Linked DNA regions of Homo sapiens: regions 1, 3 and 4 are each linked to region 2. Evidence: fine-mapped expression QTL. A gene starts in region 2. Each other region holds a variant in brackets. All regions are shown on one strand. Distances are between the middles of the regions.

Region 1 (8,099 bases), 32 kb after region 2:
TTACAGCCTGCTCTAACTCGGCCTCAGGGAGGGGCCTGGGTGCTGGTGGCTGTGGGCTCTGGAGGCTCTAAGTGTGCGGGCCCCGCATCAGCTCTTCCCGGGCGCCCCCACCTCCTGGAGGCCATACAAGGGCCTGGCACACCAGGTGTGTCCAGGGTTCTGTGCATACATGACCAGTGGGTGTGGCAGGAGCCTGTGCATGTGTGAGACGTGTGTATTCTGTGTCTGTACATGTGCTTCCATGAGCTTGCGTGACAGCCTGAGTGAGCGGTTCTGAGCCGTCCCCGTCTTTCTGTCCTGCTGAGCCGGAGCAGGCAGGGGAAGGGCAGAGTGTGGTCATCTGGGAAGCCTCGGGGGCTCGGAGCCGGGCTGGCGGGGGCCTGCTGCCCAAGGGTGCCGCTGTGGTGGGCAAAGCTGGCGGGGCAGGGAGTGGCTCCTGCATGGTGCAGGTAAGAGCAGGGCCTCCCACTGGGCTTCATCCCGGATGTCTCGGCAGACGGTGAGCGTGATCGTGCAGGACGAGGGAGTGGACGCCATCCCGGTGAAGGTCCTCAACTGTGACACCATCTCCCAGGTCAAGGAGAAGATCATTGACCAGGTGTACCGTGGGCAGCCCTGCTCCTGCTGGCCCAGGCCAGACAGCGTGGTCCTGGGTGAGTGCCGGCCCCTGCCCGTCTGCACACAGGCGCCCATGTGCCTGGCCTGTGTCCTGGGGCGGTATCCTGCCTGGCCAGCTTTCTCATATGGGAGTGGTGGGCAGTGGGAGGAACCTGGGTGGCTGGGGCCCAAGCTGGGCTGTCTCTTCCCACAGAGTGGCGTCCGGGCTCCACAGCGCAGATCCTGTCGGACCTGGACCTGACGTCACAGCGGGAGGGCCGGTGGAAGCGCGTCAACACCCTTATGCACTACAATGTGAGCGTGTAGGCCGGGGCGGGCGAGAACTGGGCACCCTGGGGGCACAGCCCACCCTCACCGCCGTGTTCCCCAGGTCCGGGATGGAGCCACCCTCATCCTGTCCAAGGTGGGGGTCTCCCAGCAGCCGGAGGACAGCCAGCAGGACCTGCCTGGGGAGCGTGAGTCCCTCCCTGTTGCCCGTTTCCTTCCAGCCCCTGGTGGTCAGCGTGGACCATGTCTGCCCTGGACACATGCACCCCTGCCCACCCTGCCACCACTGCTCCCTGTGGGACCCAGGCCCCCAGACCTGGGTAGGGGTCCCTCAGTGCCCGCTCCCCACAGGCCATGCCCTCCTGGAGGAGGAGAACCGGGTGTGGCACCTGGTGCGGCCGACCGACGAGGTGGACGAGGGCAAGTCCAAGAGAGGCAGCGTGAAAGAGAAGGAGCGGACGAAGGCCATCACCGAGATCTACCTGACGCGGCTGCTCTCAGTCAAGGTGGGCCCCCATGGGTGTGTGGGCGGCACCAGGCCGCCACGCTGAGACCCTCCCCCCCAGGAGCCGCGCCCACGGCGTCACGCTGAGACCCTCCCCCCCACAGGGCACACTGCAGCAGTTTGTGGACAACTTCTTCCAGAGCGTGCTGGCGCCTGGGCACGCGGTGCCACCTGCAGTCAAGTACTTCTTCGACTTCCTGGACGAGCAGGCAGAGAAGCACAACATCCAGGATGAAGACACCATCCACATCTGGAAGACGAACAGGTGAGGCTCCACACCCACCCCGCGGCCCAGCCCCGGCTCCGCCTCTCACTTGGGAGGCTCCACACCCACCCCGCGGCCCAGCCCCGGCTCTCATTCCCTGCTGCTCTGCCTCAGCTTACCGCTCCGGTTCTGGGTGAACATCCTCAAGAACCCCCACTTCATCTTTGACGTGCATGTCCACGAGGTGGTGGACGCCTCGCTGTCAGTCATCGCGCAGACCTTCATGGATGCCTGCACGCGCACGGAGCATAAGCTGAGCCGCGTGAGTGGGGTGGGGGCAGGTCTGGGGCAGGGAGGCCTGGGTCTGTCCCCAGGAGGCATCTTGTGAGTTGGGACCTTGTCTGGGGTGTGGATTTGAATATCTTGGGCTGGAGCCCTTGATGTAGGAGGTGACGGGTGGCGGAGGCTGGGGGCACAGGGGCCCGGCAGAGCCTGGGAGATCCCGAGAGCCCTTGCCCTCTCTCCTCCTGAGACCTCTCACCACAGCACACGAGCAGAGAAACTGAGTTTTACTACAGATCACAAAATAAGTAGTTTTCTTTTTTTTTTTTTGAGATGGAGTCTCTCTCTGTCGCCCAGGCTGGAGTGCAGTGGCGCGATCTCTGCTCACTGCAACCTCCGCCTTCTAGGTTCAAGCGATTTTCCCGCCGCTGCCTCCTGAGTAGCTGGGACTACAGGCATGTGCCACAACGCACGGCTAGTATTTTTAGTAGAGACGGGGTTTCACCATGTTGGGCAGGCTGGTCTCGAACCCCTGACCTCAGGTGATCTGCCTGCCTCAGCCTCCCAAAGTGCTAGGATTACAGGCCTGAGCCACTGCGCCCGGCCCATAGTTTTCTTGATGAAAGTGTCAGGAGTTCGGGGCAGGGGAAGCTACCCAGGGGTACTCTGAGCAGCCCCAGCCTGGCCCCCTTGGCCAGGCATCACTGGGTTTTGTCCCCAACAGGATTCTCCCAGCAACAAGCTGCTGTACGCCAAGGAGATCTCCACCTACAAGAAGATGGTGGAGGAGTAAGTCTGCCTGCCCTCCAGGCCAGGCCCCCATGCCCACCCTCGACCCCCTGCGGGGAGGTTCAGGCCTTGGTTTCCCCCACCACCCCCTTTGTGGTCCCTGCCGCCCACACTGTATGATGCTCCCACCCCTGCAGTTACTACAAGGGGATCCGGCAGATGGTGCAGGTCAGCGACCAGGACATGAACACACACCTGGCAGAGATTTCCCGGGTAAGGAGACCACCAGGGACGCACCCACAGCCCTCCCCGCTCCCACTACCCCATGCTGAGCCTGGCCCTGAGCTGCAGGGCAGGGGTAATGTGGTGCTGAGGGGGAGAGAGGGTGGGGCGGGACCTCGAGGTGGGCTCGGCCATGTGAAGTGAGCCACAGCTGCGTGTGGGGAGTATGAGCTGCTCCTGCTTGGAGCCAGGCCCTGCCCACAGCGCCCCCTCCCTGCGGCTGCACCCACGGCCGTGCCCACAGCGCCCCCTCCCTGCGGCTGCACCCTCGGCCGTGCCCACAGCGCCCCCTCCCTGCGGCTCCATCCACGGCCGTGTCCACAGCGCCCCCTCCCTGCGGCTGCACCCACGGCCGTGCCCACAGCGCCCCCTCCCTGCGGCTCCACCCACAGCCCTGCTCACAGCACCCGTCCCTGTGGGTCCATCCACAGCCGTGCGTCACACAGGGAGACACTGAGATGGTTGGATGTGCACAACTCTGCCTGCGTGGGTGTCTGTCTGAGGCTGTGCCACATGGGGGGCCCCAAGTGCCAGCTGTGCCCAAGGCCCCAGCTGCTTCCCCGGGGAGGCCTCGTCCTGGGCGTCCCGTACTACTCCTGCCAGCCCTGGGGCTCCCACAGCCCCTTTTCCACCCTGACTGTCCCGTCACCCCCCAGGCGCACACGGACTCCTTGAACACCCTCGTGGCACTCCACCAGCTCTACCAATACACGCAGAAGTACTATGACGAGGTAGGGTCAGGCCCCCGGGGGCGGGGGC[A/G]GGTGGGGTGCTGGGCGGTCCCCCGGTGTGCTCTGATGCGACCCTCCCTCAGATCATCAATGCCTTGGAGGAGGATCCTGCCGCCCAGAAGATGCAGCTGGCCTTCCGCCTGCAGCAGATTGCCGCTGCACTGGAGAACAAGGTCACTGACCTCTGACCTACAATCTCCAGTGCTGCCTTGGGACATAGGTACCTGAGGTACCTGAGAGCCCCTCAGGGGAGGAGGCCGAGTGGCTGTGGCTGAGGCCCCCACCCTCCCCTGGAACGCGCCCCAAGCCGGAGTGGGTGCAGCCGGAACCCGCCCAGCGTCTAGACTGTAGCATCTTCCTCTGAGCAATACCGCCGGGCACCGCACCAGCACCAGCCCCAGCCCCAGCTCCCTCCGGCCGCAGAACCAGCATCGGGTGTTCACTGTCGAGTCTCCAGTGATTTGAAAATGTGCCTTACGCTGCCACGCTGGGGGCAGCTGGCCTCCGCCTCCGCCCACGCACCAGCAGCCGCCTCCATGCCCTAGGTTGGGCCCCTGGGGGATCTGAGGGCCTGTGGCCCCCAGGGCAAGTTCCCAGATCCTATGTCTGTCTGTCCACCACGAGATGGGAGGAGGAGAAAAAGCGGTACGATGCCTTCCTGACCTCACCGGCCTCCCCAAGGGTGCCGGCACTCTGGGTGGACTCACGGCTGCTGGGCCCCACGTCAAAGGTCAAGTGAGACGTAGGTCAAGTCCTACGTCGGGGCCCAGACATCCTGGGGTCCTGGTCTGTCAGACAGGCTGCCCTAGAGCCCCACCCAGTCCGGGGGGACTGGGAGCAGTTCCAAGACCACCCCACCCCTTTTTGTAAATCTTGTTCATTGTAAATCAAATACAGCGTCTTTTTCACTCTGCGGGTTGGCTGAGTGTTCCTCCTGGGGCTGCAGTGCCCCTGTCCACCACCCCTTCCCTGGGCTCTGTGGGTCCTGCTGGGAGGGGAGCTGTGGGGAGGTGGAGGGGGCTGGGAGGGGTGCTGGGGGAGGTGGAAGGGGCTGGGAGGGGTACTGGGGGAGGTGGAGGGGGCTGGGAGGGGTGCTGGGGGGAGGTGGAGGGGGCTGGGAGGGGTGCTGGGGGGAAGTGGAGGGGGCTGGGAGGGGTGCTGGGGGAGGTGGAAGGGGCTGGGAGGGGTACTGGGGGAGGTGGAGGGGGCTGGGAGGGGTGCTGGGGGGAGGTGGAGGGGGCTGGGAGAGGTGCTGAGGGGAGGTGGGGGGGGTGGGAGGTGGGACTGCTTCTGGTGCCATCTGGTGGCTTCTTTCGTGCAACACATTCTTACCAAATGCCCGCTGCACACCACGCATGCACTGTCCTGAGCGCTAGGAACAGCAGCAACCAGGACGGGCAGGGCTCAGAGCCTCCCCTGTGTGCCAAGAATACAGACAGCCCAGGCAGAGGGCATTCGGTGCTCCAGACACAAAGTGAAGGCCCAGCTTCAAATGTGGCTGGATCCAGGCACACATCCTGAGGTTCTGCTGGTCTGGACTGCTAACCCACTCACGAGGATCCATTCTCAGGCAGCCCCAGCCTGTCTCCCCACCTGGGCACGTCATGGCTGGGGTCTCTTGATGGGCAAGGCCTCCATTGATCGAGTCCCCTTTGGACTGGGGCAGCTCTGTAGGGACCAGCCCCACAGGGTCAGTGGGTCTCTCCGTGTGCGGCGACGAGAGAGTGTAGAAATAAAGACAGAAGACAAAGAGATAAGAGAAAAGGCAGCTGGGCCCAGGAGACCACTACTACCAATGCATGGAGACCGGTAGTGGCCCCGAATGTCGGGCTGCGCTGTTATTTATTGGATACAAGGCAGAAGGGGCAGGGTAAAGAATGTGAGTCATCTCCAATGATAGGTAAGGTCACGTGGGTCATGTGTCCACTGGACAGGAGTCCCTTCCCTGCCTGGCAGCCGAGGCAGAGAGAGAGAGGAGACAGAGAGAAAGACAGCTTACGCCATTATTTCTGCATATCAGGGACTATTAGTATTGTCACTAATTTACTACTGCTATCTAGAAGGCAGAGCCAGGTGTACAGGATGGAACATGAAAGTGGACTAGGAGTGTGACCGCTGAAGCACAGCATCACAGGGAGACGTTTAGGCCTCTGGATAACTGCGGGCAAGCCTGACTGATGTCAGGCCCTCCACAAGAGGTGGAGGAGCAGAGTCTTCTCTAAACTCCCCTGGGGAAAGGGAGACCCCCCCCCCTCTTTCCCGGTCTGCTAAGTAGTGGGTGTTGTTCCTTGACACCTTTTGCTACGGCTGGACCACGGCCCGCCTGGTAACGGGCGTCTTCCCAGACGCTGGCGTCACCGCTAGACCAAGGAACCCTCTGGTGGCCCTGTCCGGGCATAACAGAAGGCTCCCACTCTTGTCTTCTGGTCACACCTCACTATGTCCCCTCAGCTCCTATCTCTGTATGGCCTGGTTTTTCCTAGGCTATGATTATTGAGCAAGGATTATTATAATATTGGAATAAAAAGTAATTGCTACAAACTAATGATTAATGATATTCATATATAATCATATCTAAGATCTATATCTGGTATAACTATTCTTGTTTTATATTTTATTATACTGCAACAGCTCGTGTCCTCTCTCTTGCCTCGGTGCCTGGGTGGCTTGCCGCCCACACAGCTCCATTCAAGCCACGATGAAAAACGGGTGGCCATCTCTCCCCCACAAGAGAAAGGGGTACAAGGCCAACTGACATCCCCTGCTCCAAGGATCCCTGAAATGACATTGGGTTCCCCCCTTACCCAGAGACATGGCTGGTCAGGAGATCAGAGCAAGGGGGTGGACCGAAGGCTTAAGTGCTGAGCGGGAGGTCTCAAGTAGGGAGCTGGGAACCTGGAGGCCTGGCTTCCGTACTAGACCCCTGCAGTCCACCTCTTCCCTGTCCCACTGGGCAGTCAGGAAAGAAGGGAAGGGTCAGTGAGACCCCACACACATGAAACTTGGGGCTGGGGAGAGGCTGCAGGCCCAGCAGTCCAGCATCTGGGTGGGGGCAGGCACCGGGTAGAAGCTGGGCATAGCTGCTGGGGTGCATGCGGTGGGCTGGAGTGGTCAGCTGGCGACAGACGAGGGGTGGCCTGTCCTTCCTGGTGCTTTCCAAGTCCCATTTTCCTCCCAGAGTGGTGGGAGGAGAGGTGGCGGGTAGCTTAACAGCCCAAGGCTACATCCTGCTTGCTTCTTACAGGCAGGACAAGTCCCCTGCTAAATCAGCTCCGCGACCACCATCGCCTGGTCTCCCGGTGAGCAAGGCCAGATTTGCCTTTTAGGAAGTTCACTGACTGCAGGAAGAGGCCAGCTGGGAGGGACCAGCAGGACCAGAGAGGAGCTGTCACAGTGACAGCTCCAGTGAGGAGGGGTGGCCAGGACCAGCGGGGGTGGGGTGGGGGCATGAGCACGGAGAAGGGGTGGCCTGCTGTATTCAGGGGCCACAGCGAATCAGCTGGGTAGGAGAGGCGCCTCTGGCCCAGGGCTTCTCACTCCTGCCCTGCCACCGGCCCTTCCTGGCTCCCCTGCCGCTTCCCCTCTGGGCCTGGGACTGTCCTCCACCGGCGGCTCCCTCCAGGGGGGCTTCCCTTGCCCCCGCCGAGCTCTGAAGGTGCCTCTCCTGGAAGATGGCCTCCAGGCCCTGACGCCACCCGAAACTCCTCAGTGATCACTCCCTTGCAGTGCCACGACCCCACACTGTCCCCAGTAGGCACATGGGCGGGACCTCTAATGCCTGGGCAGGCAGGGGGTTCCCGGGGCAGGTCAGCTCAGTGATGAGAGGGGCCCGTTTCCACCGCCCCCCGCCCCCACCCCCACCCCACACGCCCGCCTGACCTGCTGAGCGGCCGGGGCCTGCAGCGAGGCCGCGAGGATTGCGGGCGGACGCCTGGGGGAAGCCTGACACCTCCCCACCTCCATGTCCCCCACCCTAGGGGCGAGAACGGAGCCGCCCAGTCCACGGGGAGGCGCAGGGGCGGGGCCGGTCGCCATGGGAACCCGACTCCCGCCCCGCCCGGCCGCGGCGCAGACAAAGGCCGCTCCCCTCCCCCGGCGGCCGCGGCCGCGGTTCCCACAGCTCCGGGGCTGCGCTCCGGCCTCCTCCTCCTTTAGCTGAAGCTCCATTAACTCTGCACAAAACCTCGGCCCGCCTCGGCCGGGCCCAGTGAAAGGCGCTCCCGGGCGGGGGCCCTCGGGGAGGCTGCCCGTGTCCTCGCCCCAACCCAGCCCGAGCGAGGAGAGGGGCCATCCCCGGGCCCGCGCCAGGCCCCCAGCCGGATGCCGGCTTCCAATGGGGAAACTGAGGCACGGGGCTTGGTCATGCAAAAGGGGCCGGAGCGGCTGGGACTGAGACCCGTTCCTTCGCCGCGGTCCGCATGGGTCCGGTGGCCAGCACCGTGCTGGCTGTTTTAATTTGGTTGCCGATATATAAAAATCAGAT
Region 2 (8,099 bases):
GACGGGGGCGGGGACAGGCTGGGAGCCCTTGCTGATGTGGGTGCGTCTACCGTCTGCCCCTCCCGGTGCCCATCTGTTGGCCCCCGACCCCCCTGCGCTGTGTGTGATGCTTCCCTCAGCCCAACAGGCTGCCCAGGACAGGAGGGACCCTCTCCTGACACAGCCCCCGTCTTGTCTGGGGATGGGAGGCTATTTTGCATATAGTCATCAACTTGAGAAAGGGAGAGACCACTTTGCAGTGTGAAGAGCTCTGCTCACCACCCCTGGTGCTCCTCTGGACACCCACCTGCTTGGGGCTGTGGTTTGTTGGGAGGTAGGGGTTGGGCAGGGGGCTGTGTGCAGCCCAGCACCTCTGCTAGGAGAGCTGGCTCAGCCTGGCTCTCGGAGAGCCACAGCACCTTCCTGGCTCCCAGTCCTGGAGCCCCCACCAGGCACCAGCTCCGTGCGTCCCTTCTGGGAGGTGGACAGGGCTCCTGTTGTCCAAGTGTGTCCGTCCATCCCCCACATGCAGCCCAAGGGGCTCTGGACTTCGGCCTGACCCTGCCTCTGGCTGGAGCCTGCATGTCTCCCTTTCCTTGGTAAGGGGTGAACGTCCCTAAGAGCCACCTCTGGGTTGTATGCTCCCCCCGTGACACCTGCAGGCACTGAGGCCGGTGAGGTACGGTGTTGACCCTGCACAGCACACAGTGACGGTACTGTCAGGGCTCCGGACAGCCAAGCCCTGCTCAGCATCACGCACTGTGTGCCCGGGAGCAGGTCCCCTGACCACTCAGACCCTCAGACTCCTCATCTGAGCGAGCCAGCCATGCAGATGCCCGACAGGGTGCTGGGAGGGCCACTCATGGAGACTGGGCTTTGTACCCTGTGAGGCCGGGCGGGTGCTGGCCAGGGGACACAGGGCTGGGGGAGGGACTTTTTCTTTTTTTTTCTTTTTGAAATGGAGTCTCGCTCTGTTGCCCAGGCTGGAGTGCAGTGGCATGATCTCGGCTCACTGCAAGCTCTGCCTCCCGGGTTCACGCCATTCTCCTGCCTCAGCCTCCCGAGTAGCTGGGACTACAGGCACCCACCACTGCGCTTGGTTAATTTTTTGTATTTGTAGTAGAGACAGGGTTTCACCATGTTAGCCAGGATGGTCTCGATCTCCTGACCTCGTAATCCGCCCGCCTCGGCCTCCCAACGTGCTAGGATTACAGGCATGAGCCACCGCGCCCGGCCGGGACTTTTCTTTTTCTTCTGAGGCCCCCATTCAGTCCGAGGAATGTAGCCTTCATTCAGCGCAACGTACTGTTTGTGTTCTCATTGGTGCTCTCAGACCTCCAGCCAGGTGGTGGAGAGCGAGCACTGCCAGCCACTTCAGTGCAGGATGTGACTGAGCCACAAGGACAGCGGGGTCAGGTGTCCGGGCGCCAGGTAGTTCTCAGAACTTGGTACATGTCAACTTGTCCAGCCCAACTGCAGCCCAGGACAGCCTGTCCCTGTTCCCATTCTACAGACAAGACGCGGAGGCAGCCGGGAGGGTGACCAAGGGGAGCTGTTAAGCCCCAGATGTCTGGTGCAGGGTCCAAGGATGTGACCACATGAAACAGAACACATAGAGGCCGAGGTGGCAAACCTGTTCTGTGGCAGGGACAAGCCGGGGACCCGAGGGTGAGAAAGGTCCTGGCCCCAAATGCAGCTTGGGCCTCCTGACTGTAGCACAGGGGGACCAGCCTCCCCACTGAGGGCTTGGTCTCTAGAGGGTCTGCAGAGATGCTGGCACCTCTTGTGTGGGCAGCTTGAATGCTGACCTCCATAAGATGGGGCCTGGGGGGCCAGTACAGGCCCTGCCATCAGCTGCCCTCCACCAGGGCCCTCTGCAAAAGCCTTATGCTGGTGACCAGCCCCCTGAGGACCACCACTTCAAGGTGTCGGGGCAGCTTGGGAAGACAACCCACCTCTCTCACAACTGTGACCCCACTTTGGGGAGCGCACCCCAAGGACCGTGGCAGCATGTGCTTCCCCACAGCACAGTCTCGCCTCACTTGGCTTTCTGAGGGCTGCCGCACAGCACAGAGGGCTGCAGACCCACATGGCTGCAGGGGAGGGGCTTCAGGCTGGTCTCTGAGGAGCCCCCAGGGACCCTGGCCACTGTGTATCCAGAAATGCACAAGCAGATTTCCCTGGAGGGCTCTGGTGAGGCCACATAGTGGCGTGTGAAGGGGGAACTTGAGGGGGGAACCGGGCTGGGTGGCCAGCATTGCCCTGGGCAGAAGCTAAGGCTAAGGTGGGGGGTAGTGTCCCAGCCCCTCTTCCTCAGGGCCTGTCCCCACCTGTGCAGAAGAGGCCTGGGGTGGAATGTGGCCTGGGGTGGATGGGTGGGGGCTGGGCGTGGAGACCTGCCAGCTCCATCTGTCCGGATGCCTCTTGTGGCCCCCCCAGTGTCAGGGCCGCTCTGAGTTGGCTGAGCCTCTGTCCAGGGCTAGGCCATGGCCCTCCCCGCCCCACGCACTCCAGGCCAGGGGCAGTCAGTGAAGAGGCAGGAAGGTCCAGACAGCTCTACCCCTGGCCAGAGTGCCAGCCCCCGCAGGCAAGAGGGCTTGCTGGGCAGAACTTAGTTGGCGAGGGTGAGGACTGCTGTGGTCACAGGCCTCCCGAAGGACAGGGACCACAGAACCTAGAGGGTGGGAAGGGCTGGGAGCAGGTCTGGAGTGGGGCTCGGGGCTGAGGGTGCACACAGGGGGCCTGCTCAGGGACAGGAAGGACAGCTGCTCACCCTCAAGCTTCCTGCTGGCTATTTAAAGACTCCCTTTTAGTCTAGAACAGTGGCCTTCCCACAGTTTTGGTATTAAAATGTCCTTTTGTGACTGGACCTTGTCTTTTCCTTTTTTGATAAAAAGTTGGCAACCTTGTCAGAACCTGGTAATTTTGGGGTCCTCTGCAGTGAAGGGTAGGGTTGCCGTGATGTGGATTGTGGTTCAAGGCCCAAGGGAAGATTTTGGACAGGAACAAGGCCTGGCTGCTTGAGGGTGGGAGAAGGCAGAGACTGAAAGAACTAAGTCAGGCTGGGGGAGTTTGTCAGGATGTGGCGGGGCGGATCCCGGGTGGGGGAAGCAGAGGAGGAGGGGATGCCTGGCTGGGGACAGGAGGAAGCTGACCAGCTGCAAGGACGGGGCAGGTCTGGGTGGAAGGCGGGCCCCAGGGAGGGGTGACCCAGGGTGGGGGCAAGAGCTTGGGGAATGCTTCTGTCTCCTGCTCAGCACATCCAGTTCCGGGAGGGCAGTGGAGGCGTGCTCCAAGGTCTGGCCCTGCAGACGGTTCACCACCTCTTCTCAAGCCCAGGGGACACTAGGAGCACTGAGGCCAGGACTTGGGACCTGGGATGCCAGAAGTGGGGCCAGCTCTGTCCCAGAAACCAGAACCCCCAGAAAGAGGTCTCGGCCCGCCCACCTCCTGGCCCTGAAGGACCAGGTGGGGTCCCGGGTGCAGCATCCCAAGGTGCTGCTGGAGGCCAGGGATGTGCTGGGAGGCCATCTCCAGGTCCCAGTTTACCCTGGGAGGTTGAGGGCCTGAGACCCCTGGGAAAGGGCCAAAGCCCAGCAGCCCCCACCCCTGAAGGCCGCAGGGGAGCGACTGGTATGCTTCCAGTCTGGGAGTGAGAGTCTGGTGCCCACACATCTCAAGACTGGCAGGGACCCTCACGTTCCTCTGGCCAGGCGAGAGTGCACTCATAATGCCCTCCCCTGGTACCAAGCCATGGCCTCCCCTCAGACCTGCGGGGTTCCTGTGGGGGTGCTCAGGCCATGGGGCCTCTGTGGGCGCTCGTGCTTCCTGGACGGCGGCATGGTGGGCAGGGTGCTGCCCTGGCTGAACCTGGGTCTGAACTGGGGTGCCTGAACCTACCAGACAATGCTGTGGCCGCTGGGCAGGGGAGAAGTGGGGGGCGCGGGGAGCGCAGGCCCAGCCCCTCCCCTCCCGTCCCCTCCCCTCCTCTCCGGTTCTCTTCTGCCCTCTCCTCCCCGCTCCTGCTCCCCCTCCCCTCCCCCTCCCCCTCTTCCCCCTCCCCCTCTCCCCCTCCCCCTCTTCCCCCTCCCCCTCTCCCCCCTCCCCCTCTCCCCCCTCCCCCTCCCCCTCCTTCTCCCCCTCCGCTTTCCCTCTCCCTCTCCCCCCTTCTCCTGTTCTCCCCGCCCTCCCCTCCTCTCCCTCGTCGGGGGCGGGGCCGGCAGCTCCCGCGCGCTCCGGCCCCTCCTCGGCCACACAAAGGCCCCGTCTCCATGGCAGCAGCGCGGGCCAGAGCGCAGCGCCGAGCGCGGCCCGGGCGCCATCGAGCCTTGGCGGCGGACGTGCAGGTACCGAGCTCGGGGGACTGGGCTGCGGGGGACGTCTCGCTGGGCGTGGGGGGGGCTTCGCCGTCAGCGCCGCTCCGCCCGGGCCTGCCGCGCTGGGGCCCGGGGACCTGCGGCGGCTGCGGCTCCGCGGAGGGCTCCCGGGGCCTGGGCCCCGTCCGTCGGTCCATCCGGCGAGGCCCGGGCCGCTGCCGCCCCACTCCCTTCCCGGTGTTGACTCGGGGGACGGGCCCGGCGGCGGGGGCTGCGCGTCCCTCCGGAGCCGCGTCGGATCCCTCCTCCGCGCCTGCCTCTCACTCTTCAGCCGCCGAGCTCCGTGCGCCGAGCGGAGATGGTCTCGCGGTGCGGGCGCTCCGGGCCGGCCCCAGGCTCAGCGGCACAGGAGCCTGGATTTGCCCGAGCTCCCGGGGGCCGTCCCCGCACCCCCTGGGGCCTGCTTGGCGCGGGGGGACCAGGGCGGAGAGCACCCGCACCTGGCGAGACCCCACTGCCTGGGCCTCCTCGCGGTTCCCAGAGTGGCGTCTGGGTGGACACCCCGAGACACAGAAAGTCTCAGAAGCGGGGGCGCGAGCCCTGCCTGTCCCCTGCTGACCCTGCCCCTCCGCACCCTGCTCCTGCAGGAAGCCCCTGCCCTGCCAGCGCCCCTGGTCGGGCTATTCGGCAGATCTGGGGAGCCCGCCTCCCCCTGTCATCTGGGGGTCTCAGAGCCCGGACGCCCTGGGGCTTCCTGCCAGGCCCTTGATTTCTCTTCCCGAAGCTCCCTGGGAAAGGAAGAAAGGGGTCCGTCTGCCCACTGTGGGCTGTGGCAGAGTCAGGACAGGGGGTGAGGGTGAGGGTGAGGGTGAGGGTGAGGGTGAGGGTGAGGGTGAGGGTGGGCCCCAAACCCGGCAGATCCCGGCGGCCTGGAGGGCTCCCTGTGCCCCACCTTCCCTGGACCCCCCCGCCCTCCCCACTTAATGTCTGACTTCGGCCCTTGCTTGGAGGTTCGGCGCAGCCTGTGAGGCTTTAAAGTTGAGCTTCCTCAGGAGCCCTTTGCGGGTGGGAGAGCGAGGCTGCCGGGAAGTGGGGGCTCTCAGCCTGCCCCATGCCCAGATGACCCTGGCACGGAACAGCTGAACAGCTGGTGGGAGGAGCCCTCCCTTTCCTGTCCAGAGGTGAGGGTCTCCCGGAGGGCAGGGCCAGCAGGCATAGGTTTGTGGCGAGTCAGCTTTTTGCATGTTGCATAGAAATCCCCAGAGCCGACTGAGAAGCAAGCAGGTGGGCCTGGCACATCTGAGTCCTCCCACGGTACCTATGGGGGGCCCACCTCTGTCCCGGGGGGTCTGGGAGGCCTGAGGTCTGGCCAGGGGTTCCTTGCCCCAGTAGAGGAGGGAAGTTACTGAGAAAAACAAGGGTTTGGAATGTGAGTCCCCCTCCCCCACCGGCTGCCTGCCAAGAAAGAATTATTTTGGATCATCCAGCCGTGTCCAGTCACCCGAAGCGGGAGGCTGCAGCGTGGGAGAAGGATCCACTTCCGGGACGTGGGTTGAGGGCCCCAGGAGGAGGACGGGCAAGTCCGGGCAGCTCTGCCACTTTCTACTGCAGCTGCCCAGACTGGGCGGGGAGAAGATGCGTCACCTTTGGGTTGGAGAAAGCCCCAAGGTTGGCCCCAGCAGGCCCTGCTGAGCCTGCAGTGGGCCCAAGCCCCTCTGGGGGAGACCATGGAACAGGAGGAGCTCTGGGCCCACCCAGGGACCCCCTCGCCCCACCCAGGGACCCCCTCGCCCCGAGAAGTCTCAATGGTGGTCTGAAGAGCCTCTGAGGTACCCTCCAGGCCCAAGTTCAGGGACACACCCTGTGCCAGTGACCTGTGCGTGCCAGGGAGGAGCAGGCAGGAGCGAGGCTAGGCTGCTAGGGAGGGCACTGGGGTTTCCCTCAGGGGGCCCTCCTGCCCCAACGGACTCCCTATTCAGCTCCTGACTAACGGACCAGCCTCCCTCCAAGCCCCTCCGACAGCCAGTCCTTGCCTACGACCCCCTCTGGATATGGCGCCTGTGAGCCCATCCTGCAGGTGGGGAGACTGAGGCCAGAGATAGGTCTATGTGAGGAGTCATCTGCGATGCTGTGTGGCCAGGGCTGTGGCTACCTGGCGCTCTGGGTCCATGCTGTGTGTGCGCCCGGGGTGTGTGCCCGGCGGCCTGCATGGGGACCACATCGGGGAGGAGGAGCCGGCAGCTGGCCCCAAGTGCAGAAAGCCCAGAGCCTTGGACCCGGCCCAGGGAAGTGGAGCAGAAGAGATTGGATTGGAAGGTGGTGGGGAGGGCCCATATGGCACAGTCCTCCTCCCATCCCAGGACGTCGTCCGTGCTCACCGTGTCCTGCCCCCTGCCTCACCCTGTGCCAGCCACAGCTGATGGTCCCCCTGGGACGCGGGCGTGGGCAGGGGTGCACTGGCTGGGAGAGGCTGTGTCTTCCGGCCCCTCATATTGTGCCTTCTCTGAGCTAGGCAGGCACTTGGATGCCAGGCCTCTGCCACGAGGGCTGCCTTCCCCTGAGCTGGGAGTTCTCACTCAGCTCATGCCTCCGTCCCTCTGGCTGCAGCCTGGCCGCCCTCCTTGGAAGTTGGCGGGGAACCTCTTGTGCCCAGAGCCTGCCTTGGACACGGTTTGGGGATGAGGTGGTGAGCTGCTCAGAATTCACCCAGTGGCCAGCAAGTGGCCCCCCAGCCTTGACCTCCCTTCTCTGAGGCAGATCCAGGTTCTCTGGGGGTGGGAGATTCAGTAGGGCTGGGACTGGCCACAGCCCCTCCCTCCCTCAGGGGTAGTGGCTGTTTGTGTTTGGGGTGGGGCTGTGGGTGGGGTGGGGCTGGGTCTCTGACTAATTACACGATGGGGAGGGTGGGTCAGAGCCTTGGCTGGTGGGGGGTGCTCAGGCTCTGGGGCCCCGGGGAGGCAGCTGCCCTAGCTTCCCTCTTTCTGGTCGAGGTTCCTCCACCTTCTTCCTTTCCGTGGTTTCACATCCCTTGACACAGGGCCTGCTTCTTCCCATACCCCTGGATTGTAAGGACCCCTGCCTTTCTCTGCCTACCAGGGAAGGACCCTGCACTGTTCTGGGCTCCCCCAGCCACAGGTGTGGCCTCAAGCCAGGCCCTGACACAGTGGCCCTCCTGGCTCAGAAGCCTTCTCTCTGAAGACCAAGCGTGTGAAGGGATTGGCTGGGCCCCTCCCGTCTGGCCCTGAACACTGGCACCCCGCACCCCCCCAGTGGATCCACCCTGCCCTGTGAGATTCATGAACCTGTGACAGTGACTGGCCCCAGGCCCAGTGGTGCCGGGGATGGTGGGACAGGCTGCCCCTGGTGGTACTGCAGGTTTGCCCCACCCCCGGGGATGTCTGTCTGGGGAGGAGCCTGGGGCTGGCCTGGCTGTGGAGCTGGGGGTTCTGTTTCGCACAGTCCCGCCTCTGCAGCCCAGATCCTGGAGCCCTTCACACCCAGAGGCCAGCCCACACCGTGGCCCGCTATGGTTGGTGGCCTTCCCTGGGGGTAGCCCCTAAGGCCACACCTGAGCTGCCTCATGTCCCAGGCTAGGTGAGGGAGGAGACTGCCCTGGGCTGGGATCAGGGCGCCTGGGGGCAGGTCCAGCTCTCTTCCTCAGCCCCCTAAGGTCTCCTGGCTTCTGAAAGCCAATAGTTCCTCATTCCAGTGCCAGCTGAGTCCCGGCCCAGGCCTGGGGCAGGAGAGGGAGGTGCTGCCCCAGTTCAGCCACCAGCTCTGCCAGCAGGGTCCCAGCAGCAGCAG
Region 3 (8,099 bases), 25 kb before region 2:
ATTTGGGAGGCTGAGGCAAGAGGATCACTTGAGGCCAGGAGTTTGAGACCAGCCAGGACAATACGGTGAGACCCAGTCTCTAAAAAAAAATTTTTCTCTACTAAAAACACAAAAATTAGCTGGGCATGGTGATGCACGACTGTAGTCCCAGCTACTTGGGAGGCTGAGGCAGGAGAATCACTTGAACCCGCGAGTGGAGGGTGCAGTGAGCTGAGATCGCGCCTTCGCACTCCAGCCTGGGCAACAAGAGCGAAACTCCATCTCAAAATAAAATAAAATAAAATAATGACCCTGCTGATAAAAGTTGGAGAAGACCTAAATAAGTTGACAGACATGTCATATTTTTGGTTAAAATTGGTTTAAAAATTCAGGCTGGACGCGGTGACTCACACCTGTAATCCCAGCACTTTGGGAAGCCGAGGTGGGTGGATCATGAGGTCAGGAGATCGAGACCATCCTGGCTAACATGGTGAAACCGCGTCTCTACTAAAAATACAAAAACAAAATTAGCCGGGCATGGTGGCAGGCGTCTGTAATCCCAGCTACTCAGGAGGCTGAGGTGGGAGAATGGCGTGAACCCAGGAGGCAGAGCTTGCAGTGAACCAAGATTGTGTCACTGCACTCCAGCCTGGACGATAGAGCAAGACTCTGTCTCAAAAAGAAAAAAAACATTCAACATTGTGGCTGGGTGCAGTGGCTCACGCCTGTAATCTCAGCACTTTGGGAGGCCAAGGCAGGCGGATCACGAGGTCAGGAGCTCGAGACCAGCCCGGCCCACATGGTGAAACCTCATCTCTACTAAAAATACAAAAAAATTAGTCGGGCGTGGTGGCAGGTGCCTGTAGTCCCAGATACTGGGGAGGCTGAGGCAGGAGAACGGCGTGAACTCAGGAGGTGGAGTTTGCAGTGAGCCAAGATTGCGCCACTGCTCTCAAGCCTGGGTGACAGAGCGAGACTCCATCTCAAAAAAAAAAAAAAATTAGTTGGGTGTGGTGGTGCGCACCTGTAGTCTCACCTACTCGGGAGGCTGAGGCAGGAGAATCACCTGAACCCAGGAGGTGGAAGTTGCAGTGTGCCGAGATTGGACCACTGCACTCCAGCCTGGCGACAGAGTGAGACTTCGTCTCAAAAACAAAACAAAACAAAACAAAACAAAAAACAAGGGCCAGATGCGGTGGCTGTCACCTGTAATCCCAGCACTTTGGGAGGCCGAGGCGGGCAGATCACAAGGTCAGTTTGAGACCAGTCTGGCCAATATGGTGAAACCCCGTCACTACTAAAAATACAAAAATTATGGCTGGGCGCGGTGGCTCACACCTGTAATCCCAGCACTTTGGGAGGCCAAGGCAGGTGGATCACCAGGTGAGGAGATCAAAACCACCCTGGCTAACACGGTGAAAACCCATCTCTACTAAAAAAAAAAAAAAAAAAAAAAAAAATTAGCCGGGTGTTGTGGCGGGCACCTGTAGTCCCAGCTACTCAGGAGGCTGATGCAGCAGAATCGCTTGAACCTGGGAGGCGGAGGTTGTGGTGAGCCGAGATTGCGCCACTGCACTCCAGCCTGGGCGACAGAGCGAGACCCTGTCTCAAAAATAAAAACAACTCAACATTGTTAAGATAGCAATTCTCCCCCAAATTGATCTGTGGATCCAATGTAATCTCTGGCAAAATCTCAGCAGGTGTTTTTTATTTGTTTGTTTGTTTTTTGACACAGAGTCTCACTCTGTTGCCCAGGCTGGAGTGCAGTTGGTGCGATCTTGCCTCCTGGGTTCAAGCGATTCTCCTGCCTCAGTCTCCTAAGTAGCTGGGACTACAGGCACGCGACACCACACCCAGCTAATTTTTTGCATTTTTAGTAGAGACAGAGTTTCACCATGTTTGCCAGGCTGGTCTTGAACTCCTGAGCTCAAGTGAGCCACCCACCTTGGCCTCCCAAAGTGCTAGGATTATAGGCGTGAGCCACCGCACCTGGCTTCAGCAGGTGTTTTTGTTGGTGGTGGAAATTGACAAGCTAATACTGAAATCTGTATAGATATGCAAATGATCAAAATTGTGGGCGGCAAGCCACCCAGGTGCCAAGGCAAGAGACCAAAGAAACAAGCTGTTCCAGTATAATAAAGGAAACATATACGACGAGAAGCTATACTAGAAATAGATTATATATATGATTATATATGAATATTACTAATTATTAGCTTATAGCATTACTCTTTAATCCAATATTATAATAATCTTTGTTCTACAAGTATAACCTAGGAAAAACCAGGCCATACAGAGATAGGAGCTGAAGGGACACGGTGAGAAGTGACCAGAAGACAAGAGGGTGAGCCTCTGTCACGCCCGGACAGGGCCTCTAGAGGACTCCTTGGTCTAGCGGTAACGCCAGAGCCTGGGAAGGCACCTGTTACTCAGCGGACCAGGAAAAGGAGTTAGAGAAGACTCTGCTCCACCACCTCTTGTGGAAGGCCTGACATCAGTCAGGCCCGCCCGCAGCCATCCGGAGGCCTAAACGTCTCTGTGATGCTGTGCTTCAGCGGTCACGCTCCTAGTCCACTTTCATGTTCCGCCCTGTACACCTGGCTCCGCCTTCTAGATAGCAGTAGCAAAGTTAGTGAAAGTATTAAAGTATTTGATCTCTCCAAGAAATACATAAAAGAAATAATGACGTTACCTGTCCTCTCTCTCTCTCCACCTTGGCTACCAAATAGGGAAGGGCCCCCTGGCCCATGGACACGTGACTCGCGTGACCTTACCTATCATTGGAGACAACCCACACTCCTTACCCTGCCCTCTTGCCTTGTAAACAATAAATAACGGTGCTGCCAGGCATTCAGGGCCACTACCGGTCTCCATGTCTTGGTGGTAGTGGTCCCCAGGGCCCAGCTGTCTTTTCTTCTATCTCTTTGTCTTGCGTCTTTATTTCTACGATCTCTCGTCTCCACACACAAAAAGAAAAACCAACAGGCCCTGTAGGGCTGGACCCTACACAAAATAGTCAAAACAATTTTGAAAAAGAGCAAAGCTGGGGCCAGGCGCGGTGGCTCATGACTGTAATCCCAGCACTTTGGGAGGCCGAGGTGGGCGGATCACGAGGTCAGGAGATCGAGACCATCCTGGCTAACACGGTGAAACCTGTTTCTACTAAAAACAAAAATTAGCCGGGCGTGGTGGCAGGCGCCTGTAGTCCCAGGTACTCAGGAGGCTGAGGCAGGAGAATGGCGTGAACCCGGGAGGCGGAGCTTGCAGTGAGCCAAGATTGTGCCACTGCACTCTAGCCTGGGCGACAGAGCGAGACTCCGTCTCAAAAAAAAAAAAAAAGAAAAAGAACAAAGCTGGAGGACTTACACTACGTGATCTCAAAACTTACTACAAAGCTAGAATAATGAAGACAGGACAGAATTAGTATAAGGAAAAGCATATAGATCAAGGGAACAGAATAGAGAATTAAAAAAAACCCTCACAATTATCATCGATTGATTTTTTTAACAGAAGTGCTAAGTTTATTTATTTATTTATTTAGAGATGAGGTCTCACTCTGTTACCCAGGCTGGAGTGCACTGGTGCGATCACAGCTCACTACAGTCTCCACCTCCTGGGCTTAGGTGATCCTCCTGCTTCAGCCTCCCAAGTAGCTGAACCACCACACCTCGCTCCTAAGTCAATTTTATGGGAAAACAATATATTTTCAACAAATGGTATTGGAAAAACTGATTATCTATATAAAAAAAGAATTTAGGACTGGTTGTGGTGGCTCAGGCCTGTAATCCCAGCCCATGGGGAGGCAGAGGCGGGTGGATCACGACGTCAAGAGATCAAGACCATCCTGGCCAACATGGTGAAACCCCGTCTCTACTAAAAATACAAAAATTAGCTGGGCGTGGTGGTGCGTGCCTGTAGTACCCACTACTTGGGAGGCTAAGGCAGGAGAATCGCTTGAACCCAAGAGGTGGAGGCTGCAGTGAGCCAAGATCACGCCATTGCACTTCAGCCTGGTGACAGAGCGAGACTCCATCTCAAAAAAAAAAAAAAAAGGATTTAAACCTTATCTCCTTATCTCATACCATACACAAAAATTAATTCAAAGTGAATCACAGACCTAAATATAAGAGCTAAAAATCTTCTAGAAGAGGCTAGGCGCAGTGGCTCAC[G/A]CCTGTAATCCCAGCACTTTGGGAGGCTGAGACAGGCGGATCACGAGGTCAGGAGATCAAGACCATCCTGGCTAACACAGTGAAACCCCGCTTCTACTAAAAATACAAAAAATTAACCAGGTGTGGTGGTGGGCACCTGTACTCCCAGCTACTCAGGAGGCTGAGGCAGAAGAATGGGGGGGTGAACCTGGGAGGCGGAGCTTGCAGTGAGCCAAGATTGCACCACTGCACTCCAGTCTGGGCAACAGAGCAAGACTCCATCTCAAAAAAAAAAAAAATCTTCTAGAAGAAACATAAAAAGTATTATTTGACTTAGGACCTTAGGTTAAGACATTTCTTAGATATGACACCAAAACCATAATCCATGAAAGAAAATGGTACATTAGATTTCATCAGAATTATAATATTTGATCTTCAAAAGATGCCATTAAGAAACATAAAAGATACCTGGGTGTGGTGGCATGCACCTGTAATCCCAGCACTTTGGGAGGCTGAGGTAGGAAGATTGCTTGAGCCCAGGAGTTCAAGACCAGCCTGGGCAACATGGCAAAACCCTGTCTCTCCAAAATAAATAAAATAAAATAAAATAGGGCCGGATGCAATGGCTCACGCCTGTAATCCCAGCACTTTGAGAGGCCAAGGCGGGTGGATCACAAGGTCAGGAGTTCAAGACCAGCCTGGCCAATATGGTGAAACCCCGTCTCTACTAAAAATACAAAATTATCCAGGAATGGTAGCATGCATCTGTAATCCCAGCTACTCGGGAGGCTGAGGCAGGAGAATTGCTTGAACTCGGGAGGCAGAGGTTGCAGTGAGCTGAGATCACATAATTGCATTCCATCCAGTCTAGGTGACATAAGCGAGACTCTGTCTCAAAAAAAGAAGTTAAAAAAAATAGGCAAAAAAGCTGCATAAACATTTTTTTAAAGAAGCTAACACAAATGACTTAGGAGCACATAAGATGCTCAACACCATTAATCATCAGGGAAATGCCAAACTCGCCCACAAGAAAGTACCACTGCAGACCCCCTCGAACGGCTGGAACAATAATACTAAGCGTTGGGGAGGATGTGGAGAACTGGAACCTTTATACATTCCTAGTGGAAATGTAAAACTGTTCGGAAAAGTTTGATAATTTCTCCAACATTTGAATATAAACTTACCATACAGCCCAATACTTTCACTCCTACATATCTATGCCAAAAAAATGGAAACGTGTGTCCACACCGAGACTTGTACACAAATGTCACAGCAGCATGAGTCATAATAAGCAAACACTGGAAATAATCCAAATGTCCTTCAAATGGTAAATGGACACGAAAACATCATATAAAATACTATTCACGAAAGGAATGAACTACTGGTACATGCAACAACATGCATGACCTCAAAAACATAACGTGAGGCACAAGAAACCAGGCAGAATAAACTAGATCGTCCATGCAGTAGTTTCCGGTTGCTGCTGACACAGGTCCCCACACACGTCATGGCTTACAACCACACGCATTTATTACCTTACAGTCCTGGAGCTCACAAATCTGAGATGAGTCTTATGGGACGAAAATCCAGATGTTGGCTTCCTCTGGGAAGCTCCAGGGAAAATCTATGTCCTTGCCTTTTCCAGCTTGTCCTGCATCCCTTGGTTTAGTGTCTTCCTCCATCTTCAAAGCCAGCAACTGACCATCTTCCAGGTTCTTTTTCTCAGATCCCAGCACCACATTGACTTCTCTGACTCTAAGCCTCCTCTCTTTCTTTTTTTCTTTTTTCTTTTCTTTTTTTTTTTTTTTTTTTTTTGAGACGGAGTCTTGCTCTGTTGCCCAAGGCTGGAGTGCAGTGGCGCGATCTCGGCTCACTGCAAGCTCCGCCTCCTGGGCTCACGCCATTCTCCTGTCTCAGCCTCCAGAGTAGCTGGGATAAGGGTGCCTGCCACCACGCCCGGCTTTTTTTTTTTTTTTTTGGTATTTTTAGTAGAGACAGGGTTTCACTGTGTTAGCCAGGATGGTCTCAATCTCTCCTGACCTCATGATCCGCCCGCCTTGGCCTCCCAAAGTGCTGGGACTACAGGCATGAGCCACCGCGCCCGGCTCTCTCTCTGTTTTTTTTTCGTTTCTTTTCTTTTTTTTGAGACAGAGCCTCAGTATGTCGCCCAGGCTGGAGTGCAATGGCGCAACCTCAGCTCACTGCAACCTCTGCCTCCTGGGTTCAAGCGATTCTCGTACCTCAGCCTCCCGAGTAGCTGGGATTACAAGTGCCCGCTACCACGCCTGGCTAATTTCTGTATTTTTAGTAGAGACGGTGTTTCACTGTGTTAGCCAGGATGGTCTCGATCTCCTTATCTCATGATCTGCCCGCCTCGACCTCCCAAAGTGCTGGGATTACAGGCGTGAGCCACCATACCCGGCCAACTACTTTTAATTATGTACAAATTAAGGTGCAAGTTATTCAGAAAGTTTTAGAAAAAGGTCGTTAACTTTGGGGTGGTTATCATGGGAAGCGGCAGTAACTTGTGGGTGTTGCCATGGCAATGGTAAACAGAGATGGCACTGGTGGGCATGTCTCATGGAGCGGTGCTTTTGCCTCTTCCCAGTTTCAGCCAGCTTTTTTTTTTTTTTTTTTTTTTTGAGACAGAGTCTCCCTCTGTCGCCCAGGCTGGAGTGCAGTGGTGCGATCTCAGCTCATTGCAACCTCCGCCTCCTGGGTTCAAGTGATTCTCCTGCCTCAGCCTCCCGAGTAGCTGAGACTACAGGCACCAGCCACCACACCCGGCTAATTTTCTGTACTTTTAGTAGAGATGAGGTTTCACCGTGTTAGCCAGGATGGTCTCGATCTGCTGATCTGCTCGCCTTTTCGGCCTCCCAAAGTGTTAGGATTACAGGCGTGAGCCACCGCGCCCGGCCTTCAGCCAGTCTTTAATCTGGTCTGGAATAAAGTTCTGCCTCCTACCTCAAAATCAGAGTACATCTTACAATGATGGCATGCAATAACCACAGGGGAAAAAAATGCTCAAGACCATTAGTAATCAGGGAAATGCAAATCAAAACCACAAGAATACCCAGGCACGGTGGCACATGCCTGTAGTTACAGCTACTTGGGAGGCCAATGAAGGAGGATCCCTTGAGCCCAGGAGTTCCAGGCTGCAGTGAGCTATGATGACATCACTGAACTTCAGCCTGGGTGATAGGATGAGATCTCTTCTCTATAAAATAAACAAAATTTTAAAAATCACAAGATACCACTACCCACTCATTGGCTGGCTACAATGAAGACGCTTGGCAACACCAAATGTTGGGAAGGATGTGGAGCAAAGGAAACATAAACTGTTGGTAGGAATGTTTCCATTTTCTTTTTTTATCTTTTTTTGAGACAAAGTCTCGCTCTGTCACACAGGCTGGAGTGCAGTGGCTTGATCTCGGCTCACTGCAACCTCCACCTCCCAGGTTCAAGCGATCTCATGCCTTAGCCTCCTGAGTAGCTAGGATCACAGGTGACCGCCACCATGCCTGGCTAATTTTTGTATTTTTTAGTAGAGACAGGTTTTCACCATGTCGGCCAGGTTGGTCTCAAACTCCTGACCTCAGGTGATCCACTAGCCTCAGCCTCCCAAAGTGCTGGGATTACAGGCATGAGCCACCTCGCCTGGCCTGGTAGGAATGTTTTTAAATGTATGGCTGCTTTGGGGAAAGCTAAACATATACCCAGGTTATGCCTCAGCAATTTGGTTTCTATGCACGCCCAAGAGAAATGAAAATGAGCCCAGGCAGCACGAGACCCCATCTCCACAAAAACGAACAAAAAATAAAAATAAAAAAATAATGGGGTATGGCGGCGTGTGCCTGTAGCCTCAGCTACCTAGGAGACTGAGTGGCAGGATAGCTTGAGCCAGGAGATCGAGGCTGCAGTGAGCTGCAATGGGCCACTGCACTCCATCCTGGGAGAGAGTGAGACCTTTCC
Region 4 (8,099 bases), 42 kb before region 2:
TTTTTAAAAATATTTTTAAAAGTTAGCCTTTCCCTTAACAAAAAAAAAAAAAAAGGGAGAGGCTTTTGAGTCACACTACCTGGGGTACAAATCTTGCCTCTATCATCTACTTGCTGTTTATTTCCATTTCCTCATCTGTGAAATGGAAAACAACACAGGCGTACTTTGTCTAACGTGCTTCCCTTCATTGTGCTTCGCAGGTAATGTGCTTTCTACAAATTAAAGGCTGGTAGCAACCTTGCGTCAAGCACGTCGAGGGGTGCCATTTTTCCAACAGCATGTGCTTACTTCGTGTCTCTGTGTTGCATTCTGGTAATTCTCACAATATTTCAAACTCTTTCATTATTATTTTATCTGTTATGGTGACCTGTTATCGGTGATGTTTGATGTTACTATTTTAATTGTTTTGGGAAACTACAAACCGTGCCCATATAGGATAGCAAACTTAATAAACGCTGCGTAAGTTCTGACCGGCCATTTCCCTGAGTCTCTCCCCCTCTCCTCAGGGCTCCCTACTCCCTGAGACACAACAGTAATAACGTAATAACGTTAGGTCAATTAATCCTGTAGGAAAGGAAGAGTCACATGTCTCTCATTTCGATCAAAAGCTAGAAATGCTTAAGCTTAGTGAAGAAGGCATGTCAAAAGCCGACAGGCCAAAAGCTAGCCCTCCTGCACCAGTTTGCCAAGTTGTGAATGCCAAAGAAAGGTTCTTGAGGGAAATTAAAACTGCTACTCCAGTGAAGACATAAATAATAATAAAGCAAAGCAGCTTTATTGCTGACACGGAGAAGGCTGCTTTCTGTTTGGAGGCAGGTCTTACTCTGTTGCCCAGGCTGGAATGTAGTGGCACCATCACAGCTCACTGCAGCTCTGACGTCCCAGATTCAAGCCATCCTCCTACCTCAGCCTCCCCAGTAGCTGGGACTATAGGCATGCACCACCACATTCAGCTAAACTTTTATTTTGTAGCGATGAGGTTTCACTGTATTACTCAGGTTGGTCTCAAACTCCCGAGCTCAAGCGATCCTCCCCACTCAGCCTCCCAAAGTGCTGGGATTAGAGGTGTGCGCAACCGTGCCTAGCCTGCAGAAAGTTACGTTGTTGTTGTTTTGTGTGTTTTTTTTTTTTGTTTTTGTTTTTGTTTTGAGACAGAGTCTCGCTCTGTCACCAGGCTGGAGTGCAGTGGCGTGATCTTGGCTCACTGCAACTTCCACCTCCTTGGTTCAAGCAATTCTTGTGCTTCAGCCTCCCGAGTAGCTGGGACTACAGGCACGCACCACCATACCCAGCAAATTTTTGTATTTTTAGTAGAGATGGGGTTTCACCATGTTGGCCAGGATGGTCTCCTCCTGACCTCGTGATCCACCTGCCTCAGCCTCACAAAGTGCTGGGATTACAGGGGTCAGACACCGCACCCAATGCCTGCAGAAAGTTTTAATGGTTTGGAGAGAAGACGAAACCAGACTTAAATAGTCTACAGTAAGGCCCTCACTCTTTTCAGTTCTACAAAGGATGACAGAGATGACGAAGCTGCAGAAGAAAAACTGGAAGCTAGCGGAGGTTGTTTCATGAGGTTTAAGAAGCCACCTCCATAACATACTAAAGTGCAAGGTGAAACAGCAAATGCCGGCCGGGCGCGATGGCTCTTGCCTGTAATCCCAGCACTTTGGGAGGCCGAGGCGGAAGGATCACTTGAGGTCAGGAGTTCAAGACCAGCCTGGCCAACATGGTGAAACCCCGTCTCTACTAAAAAATACAAAAATTAGCTGGGTGTGGCCGGGTGCGGTGGCTCACGCCTGTAATCCCAGCACTTTGGGAGGCCGAGGCAGGCGGATCATGAGGTCAGGAGATGGAGACCATCCTGGCTAACACGATGAAACCCCGTCTCTACTAAAAAATACAAAAAAATTAGCTGGGCATGGTGGTGTGCACCTGTAGTCCCAGCTGCTGGGGAGGCTGAGGCAGGAGAATGGCATGAACCTGGGAGGCAGAGCTTGCAGTGAGCCGAGATCGCGCCACTGCACTCCAGACTGGGTGACAGAGCAAGACTCCGTTTCAAAAAAAAAAATTAGCTGGGTATGGCGGCGGCTACCTGTAATCCCAGCTACTCAAGAGGCTGAGGCAGGAGAATCACTTGAACACGGGAACCAGAGGTTGCGGTGAGCTGAGATGGCACCACTGCACTCCAGCCTGGGTGACAGAGGGAGACTCCATTTCAAAACAAAAAACAAAAAACAAAAACAAAACAGCAAATGCTGATATAGAAGTTGTCGCTAGATCTGGAAGATCCAGCTAGGACAATTGATGAAGGAGGCTATGGCAAACAACAGATTTTTCAATACAGATGAAACAGTCTTCTATTGGAAGAAGGTGCCATCTAGGATTTTCATAGCTAGACAGGGTAAGTCAACGCCTGGCTTCAAAGCTTGAGTGCACAGGCTGACTCGCTAATGCAGCTGGTGACTTTTAAATTGAATGCTCATTTATCATTCTGAAAATCCTAGGACCCTTAAGAATTATGCTAAATCAGGCCGAGCGCGGTGGCTCACTCCTGTAATCCCAGCACTTTGGGAGGCCAAGGCGGGCGGATCACTTGAGGTCAGGAGTTTGAGACCAGCCTGGCCAACATGGTGAAACACCATCTCTACTAAAAATACAAAATTAGCTGGGCGCAATGGCACATGCCTGTAATCCCAGCCACTAGGGAGGCTGAGGCAGGAGAATCACTTGAACCTGGGAGGCTTAGGTTGCGGTGAGCCAAGATTGCGCCATTGCACTCCAGCCTGGGCAACAAGAGTGAAACTCTGTCTCAAAAAAAAAAAAAAAAAAAAAAAAAAAAAAACACTGTTGAGACCTACTGCTCAGAAAAAAAAGATTCCTTTCAAAATATTACTGCTCATTGACCATGCATCTAGTCACCCAAGAGCTCTGATTAAGATGTACAAGGAGACTAATGTTGTCATGCCTGCTAACATACTCCATACTGCAGCCCATGGATCAAGGAGTAATTTTTTTTTTTTTTTTGAGACGGAGTCTTGCTCTGTCGCCCAGGCTGGAGTGCAGTGGGGCAATCTCGGCTCACTGCAAGTTGCGCCTCCTGGGTTCATGCCATTCTCTTGCCTCAGCCTCCCAAGTAGCTGAGACTACAGGCGCCCACCACCACACCCGGCTAATTTTTTGAATTTTTAGTAGAGACGGGGTTTCACCGTGTTAGCCAGGATGGTCTCGATCTCCTGACCTC[G/A]TGATCTGCCTGTCTCGGCCTCCCAAAGTGCTGGGATTACAGGCGTGAGCCACCGCGCCCAGCCTAATTTTCTTATTATTTCAGAAATACATTTCAGGCCGGTCGCAGTGGTTCATGCCTGTAATCCCAGCAACTTTGGGAGGCCAAGGCAGGCAGATCACCTGAAGTCAGGAGTTCGAGACCAGCCTGGCCAACATGGTGAAATCCCATCTTTATAGAAAATGCAAAAATTAGCCAGGCATGGTGGTGGGCGCCTGTAATCCCCGCTACTCAGGAGGCTGAGGCAGGAGAATCGCTTGAACTCGGGAGGCAGAGGTTGCAGTGAGCCAAGATTGCACCACTGCACTCCAGCCAGGGCAACAAGAGGGAAACTTCGTCTCAAAAAATAAGTAACAGAACTAGAAGTAGAGCCTGAAGATGTGACTGAATTGCTGCAATCTCAGGATAAAACAGATAAGGAGCTGCTTTTAATGAATGAGCAAATAAAATGGTTTCTTTTTTTTTCTTTTTGAGACAGAGTCTTGCTCTGTTGCCTAGGCTGGAGTGCAGTGGCACAATCTTGGCTCAGTGCAACCTCCACCACCTGGGTTCAAGGCATTCTCCTGCCTCAGGCTCCCGAATAGCTGGGATTACAAGCATGCACCACCACGCCTGGCTAATTTTTGTATTTTTAGTAGAGACGGAGTTTCACCATGTTGTTCAGGCTGGTCTCGAACTCCTGACCTCAGGTGATCCACCCGCCTCGGCCTCCCAAACTGATTACAGGCGTGGGCCACCACACCCAGCTGCTTTTTTCTGTTTTTTTTTTTTTTAAGATGGAGTTTCACTCTTGTTGCCCAGAATGGAATGCAATGTTGTGATCTTGGCTCACTGCAACCTCCGCTTCCCGGGTTCAAGCAATTCTCCTGCCTCAGCTGGGATTACAGGCGCATGCCACCACGCCTGGCTAATTTTTTGTATTTTTAGTAAAGACGGGGTTTCACCATGTTGGCCAGGCTGGTCTCGAATTCCTGACCTCAGGTGATCCACCTGCCTCAGCCTCCCAAACTGCTGGGATTACAGGCATGAGCCACTATGCCTGGCCACATTCTGCTTTTGTGGGTGTGCTTTTATTTATTTTTGGCAGAGATGGGGCCTCACTATGTTGCTCAGGCTGGTCTAGAACTCCTGGCCTCAAGTGATCCTCCCGCCTCAGCCTCCCAAAGTGCTGGGATTATAGGCACGAGTCACCACGTCCAGCCCGTTTTTTTTTTTTTTTTTTTTTGAGACAGGGTCTCACGCTGTCGCCCAGGCTGGAGTGCAATGGAGTGATCACAGCTCACTGCAGCCTTGACCTCCCCAGGCTCAGGTGATCCTGCCACCTCAGTGTCCGAGCAGCTGGGACTATAGGCGCACACCACCATGCCCAACTTTTTTTTTTTTTTTTTTTTTTGAGAGGAAGTCTCACTCTTGTCGCCCAGGCTAGAGTGCAATGGCACAATCTCGGCACACTGCAACCTCCACCTCCCAGGTTCAAGCGATTCTCCTGCCCCAGCCTCCTGAGTAGCTGGGATTACAGGCGCCCACCACCATGCCTGGCTAGTTTTTTTTGTATTTTCAGTAGAGATGGAGTTTCACTATGTTGGCCAAGCTGGTCTCGAACTCCTGACCTCAGGTGATCCGCCCGCCTCAGCATCCCAAAGTGCTGGGATTACAGGCGTGAGCCACTGCGCCCGGCCCTGCTTTTTGTTTTTGTAGAGATAGGGTTTTGTCATGTCCCCAGGCTGCCCTGGCCTTAAGTGATGCTCCCACCTCAGCCTCCCAAAGTGCTGGGATTACAGGCGTGAACCACCGCACCCAGCCCATGTGCTTTTAAATAAATAGCCATCCCCAAGGCTTTATACCTTGCCCCCATGATGACAGTTGTATACCTGCGGCTTGGCCTCTCCTCTGGGTTCCAGACCCTCCTGTAAGATACCTTCTCCCTAGTGACCCTCGGACTTCTCAGACTTCCCCTACTTTCAGCCAAGAGAAAGCCTTGCTTTCTACTTCCAAACTGTAGTAACACCCCCAGCCCTGACACCACCCTAATTCAGCTTCCCTATTTCAATAAACAGTGCTACTATCCACCCATTTGTTCCATCAGAAAGCCTAGAAGGGTTGATGGGGCTGGGAGGATAAAAGCAGCCCAGAAATTACCCTGAGTCCATTCATTCTCTCACACCTCTCTTCTCATCTACCAACAAGTCCCAACAGCTCTACCTCCAAAATATCTCCCTAAACCCACCACCAAGTTCTAAACCATTACAATCACTACACCCAGCTCCCAACACTTCATCTCACCCCCACCTGCTGTCCACGTGCCAATGTCCATATGATCATGGCACTCTCCAACTCAATCTCCAGGCCAGGTTTCTCCTACAACTCAGACTGAAGGTCCAACTCCCTACTAACACCTGCAAGGAACGGCTTAATGAGAAAACCAACTTTCCAGCCCAGGCTCCTGCCTCTCTCTCCCTTACCATAAGCACATCAGTCTTATCTAGGTTCCTGGAGGATATCACACCCAAAATTTCCCACTTCAGGGCCTTTGCATGTGCTGTCCTCTCAGCATGGGAGACTCTGTCCCCCAATTTGTCTCAAAGCTAGCTGCCTCTCACATTCCAAAGATTAACTGAAGTGAGTTAGAAAAGTCAAAGGGGAGAGATATATACACCTATTGTGTACCCACAACATTTTAAAGTAAAAAATAAAAACAAAGGGAAGATAAACCAGAAAAAGGGACATCAAAAAGAGGTGAAGAGCCTCTTTCAGTGAACAGTGAACAGTGTCGGCAACTGCAGGGGCAAGGAGAAGCCAAGAGCAGGGCAGAGAGAGGCCATGAGGGAAGGGTGGATGAAAGAACAAGACACAGGAGAAGGGTCTAGAACAAAATCAGTGGGTACAGTGACAAAGAGGGGGCTGCAGTGAAAGGCAGGGACTAAATGGAAGTGACAGACTTGGGGGAGCTGGTGCTGACAGGTCAGGGAATGAGCAGCAAATTGGGAGGAGTCAGTAACAAGAGAGTGGACAAAGCAGGTAGGGAAGCTGCGAGTACACAGAGTGGCAGGTCGGGGGACAGTACGGTGCATGGGGGAAGGTGACAGGCTGAAGGAAGAGATGATGGGGATGGAAGCAACAGGGCAGTGCGGGGTAAGGTGAGGTTAGATGACTGGTGATATCTCAAGCCGTGATGGGGAGCGCGACAGGAAAAGACGAGTAGTGTTGGAAAGGGTTAGGAAATAATGGAAAGGGGAATCAGTGATTGGACAAGAGGGGTGATGACAGCGGGCACTGAAAGTTCTCCCACTGACAGGCAGGAGAGAAGCAGTGGGGAGACACTGACAGGTGGGGTCACTAACAGCAGGGCAGGGTACTAATGGGTCCCTAACAGATAAGGGATGAAGGAGGTAGCATGAAAGGGGACAGGAACTGACAACAGGGGAGAACTGATGGGGAGGATCTGACAGGCACTAACACAGAGGCCGATAGCAAAGAGCGGAAGGGCCACAACAGGCAGGATGAGGGAGACACTTATGAGGGAAACTTACTGACAGTGGGGCTCACTGACAGAGGCACTGGCACTGATGGGGGGCACTGACAGAGAAGATCAATGACAGGTGGGGACATTGCTGACAGAAGGGGTCACAGAGCGCTTGGACTGACAAGGAAGGGCACTGGCAGGGGAGGGATTATGCGGTCAGTGACTGACGGGTACGGGTGGGGGTGCAGGCACTGATGGGAAGTGGGGACATGACAGAAAGAAAATAATTGACTGGGGGGGCACTGGCTGACGGGGGACAGGGATGCGGGACTCTGACTGGGGGACACTGATGGGGAGCAGAGTGGACTGACGGTGGGGGAGCACTGACCAACAGTGGAGGCACTGACCAGTGCGCGGACTGACAGATGCGGAGGCACTGACCGACAGGAGGAGCATGACTTGCAAGGGGCACTGACTGACGGTGGGGGGCACTGATGGGTGGGGTGGGGACTGATGGGTGAGGTGCAATGACTAGCTAGCAGGGGACACTGACTGGTGCAGGAAGCACTGACTGGTGTAGGGTGGGGGAACAGAAGGAGGGCACTGACTGGGGGGGCACTGACTGACTGGGAGGGAACTGACTGGAGGGGGCCCTGACTTGGGAGGAAACTGACTTGGGGGGCACTTACTGGAGGGGAACTGACTGGAGTGGGCACTGACTGGGGGCACTGATTTGGGGGGCACTGACTGGAGGGGGCACTGACGGGGGAACTGATTGCGGGGGGAACTGACTGGGGGGGCACTGACTGAGGGGAACTGACTGGGGGACACTGAAGGGGGCACTGACTGGGGGGAACTGACTAGGGGATGCACTGACTGGGGAGAACTTACTGGAGGGGCACTGACTGGAGGGGACAGTGACTGACTTGGGGGGGGCACTGACTGGGGGGCACTGACTGACTGGGGGAACTGACTGGAGGGGGAACTGACTGACTTGGGGGGCACTGACTGGGGGGCAACTGACTGGGGGAACTGACTGGAGGGGGCACTGACTGGGTGGGTCACTGACTGGAGGGTTCACTGACTGGGGGGAACTGACTAGAGGATGCACTGACTGGGGGGAACTGACTGGAGGGGGGCACTGACTGGGGGGGAACTGACTGGAGGGGGCACTGACTGGGTGGGTCACTGACTGGAGGGTTCACTGACTGGGGGGAACTGACTAGAGGATGCACTGACTGGGGGGAACTGACTGGAGGGGGGCACTGACTGGGGGGGAACTGACTGGAGGGGGCACTGACTTGGGGGGCACTGACTGGGGGGAAACTGACTGGAGGGGGCACTGACTGGGGG

What was found. PIP is the estimated chance that this variant, and not a neighbour inherited with it, causes the effect.
Region 1: its variant is fine-mapped to the expression of PLXNB2 in whole blood (INTERVAL, PIP above 0.99).
Region 3: its variant is fine-mapped to the expression of PLXNB2 in whole blood (TOPMed, PIP above 0.99).
Region 4: its variant is fine-mapped to the expression of PLXNB2 in whole blood (TOPMed, PIP above 0.99).

What each region holds. Positions count from the first base shown.
Region 1 is chr22:50,271,409-50,279,507 of GRCh38, reverse strand. PLXNB2 (plexin B2) reads left to right here. Exons shown (of 37, transcript NM_012401.4): 28 at 497-653; 29 at 812-912; 30 at 989-1,073; 31 at 1,237-1,391; 32 at 1,495-1,655; 33 at 1,770-1,917; 34 at 2,602-2,666; 35 at 2,804-2,879; 36 at 3,545-3,619; 37 at 3,700-4,529. The coding sequence ends at 3,804. Among named protein-coding and RNA genes, the nearest start is that of MAPK11, 5.1 kb to the right of the region's middle. RefSeq lists silencers at 3,134-3,203, 7,439-7,788 and enhancers at 6,751-7,291, 7,292-7,831. The variant A/G (reference allele first, on the strand shown) is at 3,648.
Region 2 is chr22:50,303,779-50,311,877 of GRCh38, reverse strand. It overlaps PLXNB2 (plexin B2), which reads left to right and starts at 4,232. Exons shown (of 37, transcript NM_012401.4): 1 at 4,232-4,325. It overlaps DENND6B (DENN domain containing 6B), which reads left to right. Exons shown (of 20, transcript NM_001001794.4): 20 at 1-2,848. RefSeq lists silencers at 3,161-3,210, 3,911-3,960, 4,121-4,320, 4,331-4,400, 4,921-5,071 and enhancers at 5,620-5,989, 5,379-6,578.
Region 3 is chr22:50,328,559-50,336,657 of GRCh38, reverse strand. It overlaps a transcript of PPP6R2 not described here. Among named protein-coding and RNA genes, the nearest start is that of DENND6B, 5.6 kb to the right of the region's middle. RefSeq lists an enhancer at 2,437-2,566 and a silencer at 4,175-4,364. The variant G/A (reference allele first, on the strand shown) is at 4,149.
Region 4 is chr22:50,345,773-50,353,871 of GRCh38, reverse strand. All of the region lies in intron 1 of PPP6R2 (protein phosphatase 6 regulatory subunit 2), which reads right to left. Among named protein-coding and RNA genes, the nearest start is that of PPP6R2, 6.5 kb to the right of the region's middle. The variant G/A (reference allele first, on the strand shown) is at 3,245.